Regions from separate parts of the Homo sapiens genome. Here region 1 is linked to region 2. Evidence: fine-mapped expression QTL. Tissue or cell type: cerebellum. Region 2 holds a variant in brackets; the other region holds the start of a gene. All regions are shown on one strand. Distances are between the middles of the regions.

The links. PIP is the estimated chance that this variant, and not a neighbour inherited with it, causes the effect. A credible set is the group of variants that fine-mapping cannot tell apart.
Region 1: it holds the start of ANKRD34C-AS1, and the variant in region 2 is the best candidate, but not a certain one, in a credible set for the expression of ANKRD34C-AS1 in cerebellum (GTEx, PIP 0.56).

The regions. Positions count from the first base shown.
Region 1 is chr15:79,282,204-79,286,444 of GRCh38, reverse strand. It overlaps ANKRD34C-AS1 (ANKRD34C antisense RNA 1), which reads left to right and starts at 2,500. Exons shown (of 2, transcript NR_038997.1): 1 at 2,500-2,796. ANKRD34C (ankyrin repeat domain 34C) reads right to left here and starts at 3,723. Exons shown (of 2, transcript NM_001146341.2): 1 at 3,217-3,723. RefSeq lists a silencer at 3,399-3,597 and an enhancer at 3,249-3,788.
Region 2 is chr15:80,087,253-80,091,493 of GRCh38, reverse strand. The region is part of intron 1 of ZFAND6 (zinc finger AN1-type containing 6); the gene reads right to left. Among named protein-coding and RNA genes, the nearest start is that of ZFAND6, 30 kb to the right of the region's middle. The variant T/C (reference allele first, on the strand shown) is at 2,500.

The sequences.
Region 1 (4,241 bases), 810 kb after region 2:
TCTGGATTGAAAAAAGCTGAAGCATTCCTAGAATGTTGAGATCCCATCCACTTTGGCTGCTCTGGCCAGAATATTTTTGTCTTTAAAAATTAGCAACCATAAAGTGGGTTTTTTTCATGTGTTTCATAAGAAGAGTAAACTGAGAAGAGAGCAAAGTTTGCCTGGTTCCTCCCTTGCTGTACTCCCTGTCTCTACCCGCCAACCCCCCACCCCCACTCCACCCCCACCATCACTTTCACCTCTCTGGTCTGTTTTCTGTTGGACTCATTTCCACTATAATGGTGGCCACTATATCTTCCAATGGCACAGGGGCTGGAGAGGAAATACTGAAGATTAAAATATCACCAGTGTCAGAAAATTAAAATGATGCCTTCTTTCATGGAGGCAATAAGTAGATGCAAGTGTTTGCTATTATTGTCCTGATGTCCTTTGATTATTTTATTGTCCCCAAAAGTAAAGATGTCTTATATTTTTTAAGCTGAGAGGAGCCATCTTGTTCAATCTTCCATGTTTAGAAACAGGAAACTTAAATACAGGAATTGAAACTTTTCTCTCTCTGAATCCAGGGTCTTTCACTCCCATGCCTTCTCAGATCCTTGGCCTGAGTAGTTTAGACCAAGATTACATATTAAAGGTCTGACAGCCGATGTAGCCCACAGTCATGTCTTGCTTGGCTGGCACTGTGCTTTAAATTTTCTTTGAATGTTTTAAGATGGATTATTCACTCTTCAGTTTGAAAAGGCCCTGTCATTCTCCGTAGTCTTACAATTGGCCCGATTCACACATTCAGGTTACTTAACTGGCCTGTATAGGGATGCGGGTTTGTGTATGAAAGTAAAATACATAATATATAAAATCGCGATGCTAGGATTTTGTCCTTCCTGTCATTTTGTAGCTGCTTATCTCTTCAGAGTTGTTAGAAGGCCTAAATAAGCTAACGGATGTAAACCTTTATATAAACTTTAAAGTATGGTTTGCTCATGTGAACCATTATAAATTATGTAACTAACACTTAATTACCTGAGTGCAGATACAATGTCATACACTTTATTTCCCCTTCTTCAAGTCACACTGACATTGGATTTCCAGTTAAACATCCCTTGTTTGGCACAGTGAAGATCTCACAGAGGGCAAGGGATGGAATTATACAAAAGAGAAGAGTCTACGGACTTTTGCAAACATTTTCAAAGTTCCTAGACCTCCAAGAAAGTGCTTGGTTATACACTTTCTAGTACTTAGAGACCAGAGCAAGTTTCTAGGACTTTATAATATACATACTTTGTATTCATTTTATCTGTGGCTATAGCCTTAATCTTGTTTCACCTCTGTTTTCTCGACTACTTCGAATACGTGCAAACCTGACATCTTGTGGAGCCTTCTAAATTGCTTTAAATTCTTTGTGGAACAAAATAGAATATAATCAATAAACATTTATGAGATTAATCCATATGAAACTGCTGTTTCAAAATGGTTTTAAAAACCATTAATGTCACATATTTATAGTACTTGTCTAAATACACTTTAGTGCTTAACTGCCCCATAATTCAAGCTCCTGAGGATGTGCCAGTCCATGTGGAAGGATTATAAGCTAGAGAGGCGGGAGATCTGGATTCTAATCCCAGCTCTGCTACTAAGTACCTGAGTAATTTTGGGCAAGCATCATTTTGCCAAACAAGTAGAATAACCCCAGTCCTGCCTACTTAACAACATTGTTATAAGGATCAAATGGTAGGCAATATGTCCACACTCTCTATAAAGTCCTGTTAAAAAATCTAAGAGGCTATTACACACTGAACTAAGCTCATCCAGAATTCCTCCCACTGAGCCCCGCTCTGTGCCCAGTCCCTTTGGAGTGTGCTGAGGGAAGTGTTCACCACCAATTCTCCTTCTCTTCTAATTACCTGCTCCTTCCTTTCAGCCCCTAACACCCAACCACAATTCCCAGTTTGCCAGTCTTTCCACACATATGATCTCCTTGGCCACCCTCCCCTGACACTTTTGCAAGGAAAGCATTATCAAGTATTTACAGATAGTTAAAATCTGAAGTTCAGACACATTTAGTAATTTTGTCTAAGGGCACACGTTTTTAAGTGCTACAGCTTTGATTTAAACTCTGTTCCTCTGATCCCAAGTTCAGAGCTATTTCACGCAGGGAATTCCACTCAAGCACATCCTCCCACCACTGCAATCTGGCAGCGTTTAAGAGCGCAGCCATACCATTTGCTAGTTCCATAAACCTGGACAAGTTACTCGGCCTCTCTTGCTTCAGTTTTCTCATCTGTAAAATGGGGATACTCATAGGACACAAATTTGTGGTGCACTGGCTTAGCACGGGGCCTTGGCACATGGTAAGCGCTTAATAAATGCTAGATTTTTAAAGAAGTTTGGGTACACCTTCCGAAATCCGGGGAGGCCACACAGTTTGCCTGTAGTTTTCGCGGAAGCTTGGGAGATATCTTTACACTCCGCCTCTTCCTTCTGCAGTCACGGGAAGCAGTTAGAAGCAGATCAGAAATCGAACACGTTTGCTTTTGCGATTCGAGAGCCCTTTCTGGCGCGGAGCTAGGGGCGGTGTTACGTAGCTGCCCTGAACTGAGAGCAGCGTTGGCCGGGGGCTAGGGAGCCGGGCTGTTCCACGCTCACTGTGCGCCTCGGGCGGCGGGGCTCGGGCTCTGTCCGAGGTGCTGAACTCCGGGGCTCCGGCCGCGCCGGCAGAGTGTGCCAGCGTCCATTATTGCCAGTGTCTGTGGGCATCTTCCAGAAGGCCGAGCATGGGGGTCAGGTGAAACCAGGGCGGTAAGTGCTTCTCCCATCATTTCTCAGAAATGCTTAGGTGCCTACTTTTTACAATTTCGTGCACATTTTCAGGATCATAACCTCTCACCGCCAGTTCCTCACAGGTTTCTGCAAAAACTGACGACCTTTCTTCCCCTTCAGTCCCTGCAAAAATCCAGACACCTATCACCCAGCCCCGCTCCGCAACCATTTCCTACAAGAATCCAGGCCCCTACGCATCTCATCCCCACGCGTCAATGCAAAAATAAAAAATGTTAAATCCGCCTTCCATTCCCGTCTCCCACAATTTCCTGTGATAAAAGCAAGCTGTCTCCTACCAGTTCCCCACTCCTGCCTGTGGCTAAACAGCATGGACCGACTTCTCGGGAGCTCGAGGTCCCCACCCGGGTGACCAATGCAGACCCCTGGGGGTGCGCTTACCTGGTGGGGACAATCGCCGAGCGAGGCCACCTGGGTCCAGGCTATAGGTAGTGTCATTATTATTCCCAAAACAAAATCAGGGGGCGTCCAGCACCCCTACCTGCAGCTGCGGGTTGGCTGCCAGAGGGCACTGCCAGACTGAACCAGCGCCGGGAGCTGGGGCTACCCCGGGCCCCGCGGGTCCTGTTGAGTCACTTGCCCAGAACTTCTTCAAGGTTCGTGAATAAAACCTCTGCGTCAGTTCCTTCAAATCGGTCCACCGCTCCTCCAAGTTGCGGTGGGAGCAGGGGAGTTTTGGGTTTGGTTTGGTTTGGTTTGGTTTTAAGAAAAAGAAAGAAGCATGAAAGAAAGATAGGAATCGCCCCCGGTTCCGCGCTGCGGGTGTGCAGGTCTCTGCGCAGCCCCAGACCTCCGGCTTGGTCTTCGGCCGGCTGTGCTGGCTGACGACGCGCTGCTGCCCGCTGGCGCCGAGAGCAGCTCTCCAGCCGCGACGGGCGAGGGTTGTGTGGGTGTGCGAGCTGCGAGGAAGGAGGAAGGAGGGGGCCGCGGGGGTGGGGAAGTGCCTACCTGCAGCCTCGGCAGAGGCGCCTGCTGCCCCACCCCCTCGACCCTAGCTCTTGGGGCTCCGACTCGCTCAGCAACTTAGCAGGGGGCTCCTAGACTCCCCGAGGGTGAGCGCGGAGCAGGCGCGGCCACTCCTGGGGTCCGGAGAAGTGAGGGGACGCTCCCAAAGTCTGACGTTGCAGGTCTCAGACCCTGGCAGGAATTTGAACTCGTGTCCCCTTTGTTCTCTCTGCGGCCCTGCCCTCCTCGGCTTTCCTTCACACACGCCCTGGAATCTCAGGCTGTCTGTCCAAGGTGTAGGAAAGAGAGGGAGAGAGGAGGGTGCAGTGCGATCCTCAAAACTGGGAATAATTTGATGATCAGGGCTGGTTCCACGGCCGTTGGATTTCATTCCAAATCAATGTTTTAGCCCACCCGCTACCTATTCCCAGGGCCTCCTGTGGAGTCGTTCGCGGACAATC
Region 2 (4,241 bases):
AACCATTTTATCTAAACGGAACTCTGCGAAAGCAAATGAACGAAAGGTCCTGGTTACCTTTTCTTTCAAAAGAACATTTGATTATTCTGAGAAAACTACCAAAATGATTAGAAGAATGAAGTATGGCTTGGAGTTTAATCACATACAAACCATCCATTAGGCATCCAGATTCAGAGCTTTTTGTGGTACTCAGTCTTCTCAATAACACCTCTAGATTTTCACGTACATCCTCCTCCTTCCTTCTCACCCCATTCTGATATAAAATCACCTAATAGGGTGAGAAACTACACATGTGCACGTGTGCCCGACACACACACACACACACACACACACCCCTTAACAACTAAATAGAAAATATGATACTAATGAAATCTTTCTTTGCAAGAATTTCCTTTGGCAACTTCTCTTCCTCCTAGTGGCCAAGTCAAGTAACACCTATGGTGACCATATCTTCTAAATCAAAACCTAGGATGTGTGATTCAACAAGATAGAATATTTCAGTAGAAAAACATAAACCTCTAGTGGGTTGCGGCAAAGAGGCAGTTCAAATTTTTGTGCTACTTCCAAATGTGTGACTCTGTATTTTAAGGGTGTCAAAAAGTTATTATTTCTAAAATATTCCAAAAATTTAGAAGACCAATAAAAAATATTTGAAAACTGGGTTGCCTGAAGATACATGGCTCCTAGAATGGTATCTCAAAATCCCATCACCTGCTATTTGTCTTTTTATATACATTAGCTCAGGTTTCAAAGTTCTAAATAGGAGTTCTGAGCAAATCTCCCCCAAATATGACTCTTTCTCAGACCATTCTCCAGGGTTGTTTTTGCTAACTGCCTACTAGAAATTCACTTAGATGTCTCATTGGCTCTGCCAGTTAAAAAAACAAACAAAAACATGGGATGAGCATGGAGCAGGATTAACTAAGAGCTAGTAGGTAAGTCAGAATTGCAGGACAAATAGTAAGAACAGAATTGAGGGGTCCCATGATAAATGTTTTATCTGCATTGTCTCCTTTCATCTTCACAATATCCCTTAAAGGTAGTAGTAACTATTTAGAATGAGGAAACTGAGGCCTACAGAGATTATGGAACTTGCTCAGGTCAAACAGCTGGTAAGCAGTAAAGCAAGGATTTGAACCCAGAGAGTCTGACTCCAAAGCTCAAGCACCTGAACATGCTAAGACATCAAAAAGAATGAAATGCAGATTCTGACAGAGTTGTGGTCACTGGTCAATTCAAGAGGCATTTCTTGAGTACTTAGGTACTATCAGATACTGAGGATACAGAAAAAAATGTACATCTGGCTTCAAATTCTTGCTTTACTACTTAATAGCTACGTAAGCTGAAATGAAAAAGTTTCTGAGCAGTATGATTTGAATAAGGAATGGCTGCTACTCAGGAAAACAGACAAATTAACAAGTCACAATATAATATGAAACAACACAAATAGAAACAAGGAAGAGAAGTTATACAGTGATTAGCTTCGTTATAGGGAAAGGATTGTTTTGGTTTATGGTGGGAGACTCACCTTAATATTTTGAATGAGGATGAAGGATATTACAGACTAAATAAAACATGATACCATGATTCTACATAGTGCACTCAAGAGTCACAAGTAGACTGATACTCTTAAAATATAAATACCTAGAAGGGTGGAGAGTTAGGCTGGATTCTAGATGATTAGAAAAATAAAAAGGAAAACATAGTTCAAGCATCCAGACAGCAGTCAAGGTCCAGGGCTCAAGTAGGCTAAAACGGACTGGGTGGAAAGCAGAGCTCAGGCAGTATTACAAGGAAAGCTATTCCATTTCCACAGGCAATGGAGTCTATACAAGTGATCATCAATCAGCCTATGGTAAGCAGCTAGAAGGCAGAGATTACATATTCATTTCAATTCAACATATAGTTGAATGCTAGGTCAAGAGAACACAAAGGCTAGGCTGGGAGTGGTGGCTCACACCTGTAATCCCACCACTTTGGGAGGCTGAGGCAGGCAGATCACTTGAGCCCAGGAGTTCAACATCAGCCTGGCAAACATGGCAAAACCCCATCTCTACTAAGAATACAAAAATTAGCCAGGTGGTGGCACAGCCTGTAATCCCAGCTACTCGGGAGGCTCAGACAGGAGAATTGCTTGAACCAGGGAGGTGGAGGCTACAGTGAGGAGATCGTGCCACTGCTCCAGCCTGGGTGACAGAGACTCTGTCTCAAAAAAAAAAAAAAAAAAAAAAAAACACACACACTCACACACGAAGACAGAATATGGCCCCTACTCACAAAGGATCTCACAGCTTTGGTACAAGAGGCAAATATGTTGAATTATTGCAATCTGGTGTGATCAGTGAAGAACAGAAGGAGTTGTCAATTATGAGTAGGTCTTTCAGGAAGATGTGGGAAGATAACAGCTGTAAAAGTGAAAAGGGCCCGAAACAATGTATTTAGAGAAAATGCTGGTAGTTTACTGTGACTGAAGTACAGTACACGTTGAGATGAGGATAC[T/C]GAGATAAGCAAGGGCAAGATTATGGTGGGTCTATTATGGATAAAGATGAGATAAAGAAAAATCCCTCAAATGTTGGGAAAGAAGGGAATCTAGAAAGGTGCTACCCAATATATTAAGTAGCCACCAGCCCTGTGGAACTACGGAGCACTTGGAATGGAGCTAGTGCAACTAAGGAGCTAAGTTTTAATAAATTTAAATAGCCACTACTAACTACCATATTAGACAGCAATGATCTACAGCACACGTAACAGAATTTTCTTATCCAGAAAGAATTTATCTTCCATAAAGAAAAGAGGGTAAATGAAGATACAGGTATTTGTAAATTAAGGAAAAGAAGGGGCAGGAAATTGAGAAAACTCACAAAATTATGTCAATGGTAACAATAAAGCATAAGGAAAGAGTGAGGACGAAGTCGTTTTTTTCTTTTGAGACAGAGTTTCGCTCTTATCGCCCAGGCTGGAGTGCAGTGGCACAATCTCGGCTCACTGCAACCTCCGTCTCCCGGGTTCAAGCAATTCTCCTGCTTCGGCCTCCTGAGTAGCTGGGATTACAGGCGTGCACCACCACACCCCCTAATTTTGTATTTTTAGTAGAGACAGGGTTTCACCATGTTGGTCAAGCTGGTCTGGAACTCCTGACCTCAGGTAATCCACCCACCTTGGCCCTAAAAGTGCTGGGATTACAGGCATGAACCACACTGTGCTCGGCCAAAGTCTTAAAGAATAGAGAAGGTTTAAGATAAGCACACAGAAAAATGGTAGAGGGTTAGGATCAAAAAGGATGGACAAGTCCAAGCTGGAGTTGTAAAGTATAAAGTTTGTAGTAAAGCTTAAAAAAACAAAGCAAACCAAAACAAAAAGCTATAAAGGGTATTGTTGAGACAACTGACAAAACTAAATAAGGACAGTATATTAAATAATATTATTGCATAAAAGTTAAAATTCCTGATTTTGATAACTTAATCACACTGTGTAAGAGAATATTCTTGCTCTATGGAAATATATACTGAAGTATGTAGGGGTAAAAGTCTCCAGCTTATGCTCAAATGATTCAGAAAAACATAGCATGCATATGTATTATATATACAATGCATATATAGTATGTGCATACTAATTTAATTTTTATATATGCATGCATAATACACCCCCAAGGAAAGTAAGAATATGATAAAGCAAACAGGACACAGTATAACAATTGGGAATCTAGAAAAACGATGTATGAAAGCTCCTTGTACTGTACATGCAATAACTATGTAAAAGTTTGAAAATAAATATAAATTAAAAGTTACAAAAAAATTCATAGTAGTGTCAAAACAAAACTATATGATTTCCTCTGATAGCACTTAGAAGCAGAGTAGATGGCAAAACTGGGCAAAGATTCAAAGCTAAGAATACTGGAAGAAAAGTGATTGAAGAGGGAACTGAAGCTAGAGGAGAGAATGAAACAAGAGGTGCTGGGACCAGAAATCTTGATAAAGCTTAAAGCTTAAGAATAAACGTGCTGGGAAAAGGAGAATGAGCATTGGAATGACAGGAGGCTACAGTCAGAAAAGTAGGATATTAAGCATTCCAAATCAGAGTTGTTATTAGTCATTTAGGAAATGCAAATTAATCCCACAATAGAATACCACTCCACATCCACTAAAATGGTTAAAATTTAAAAGACTGACCACACCGATTTTTGATGAGGGTGAAGAGAAACAGAATTCCCAAGCACGACTAGTGGGCATGTAAAAAACTAC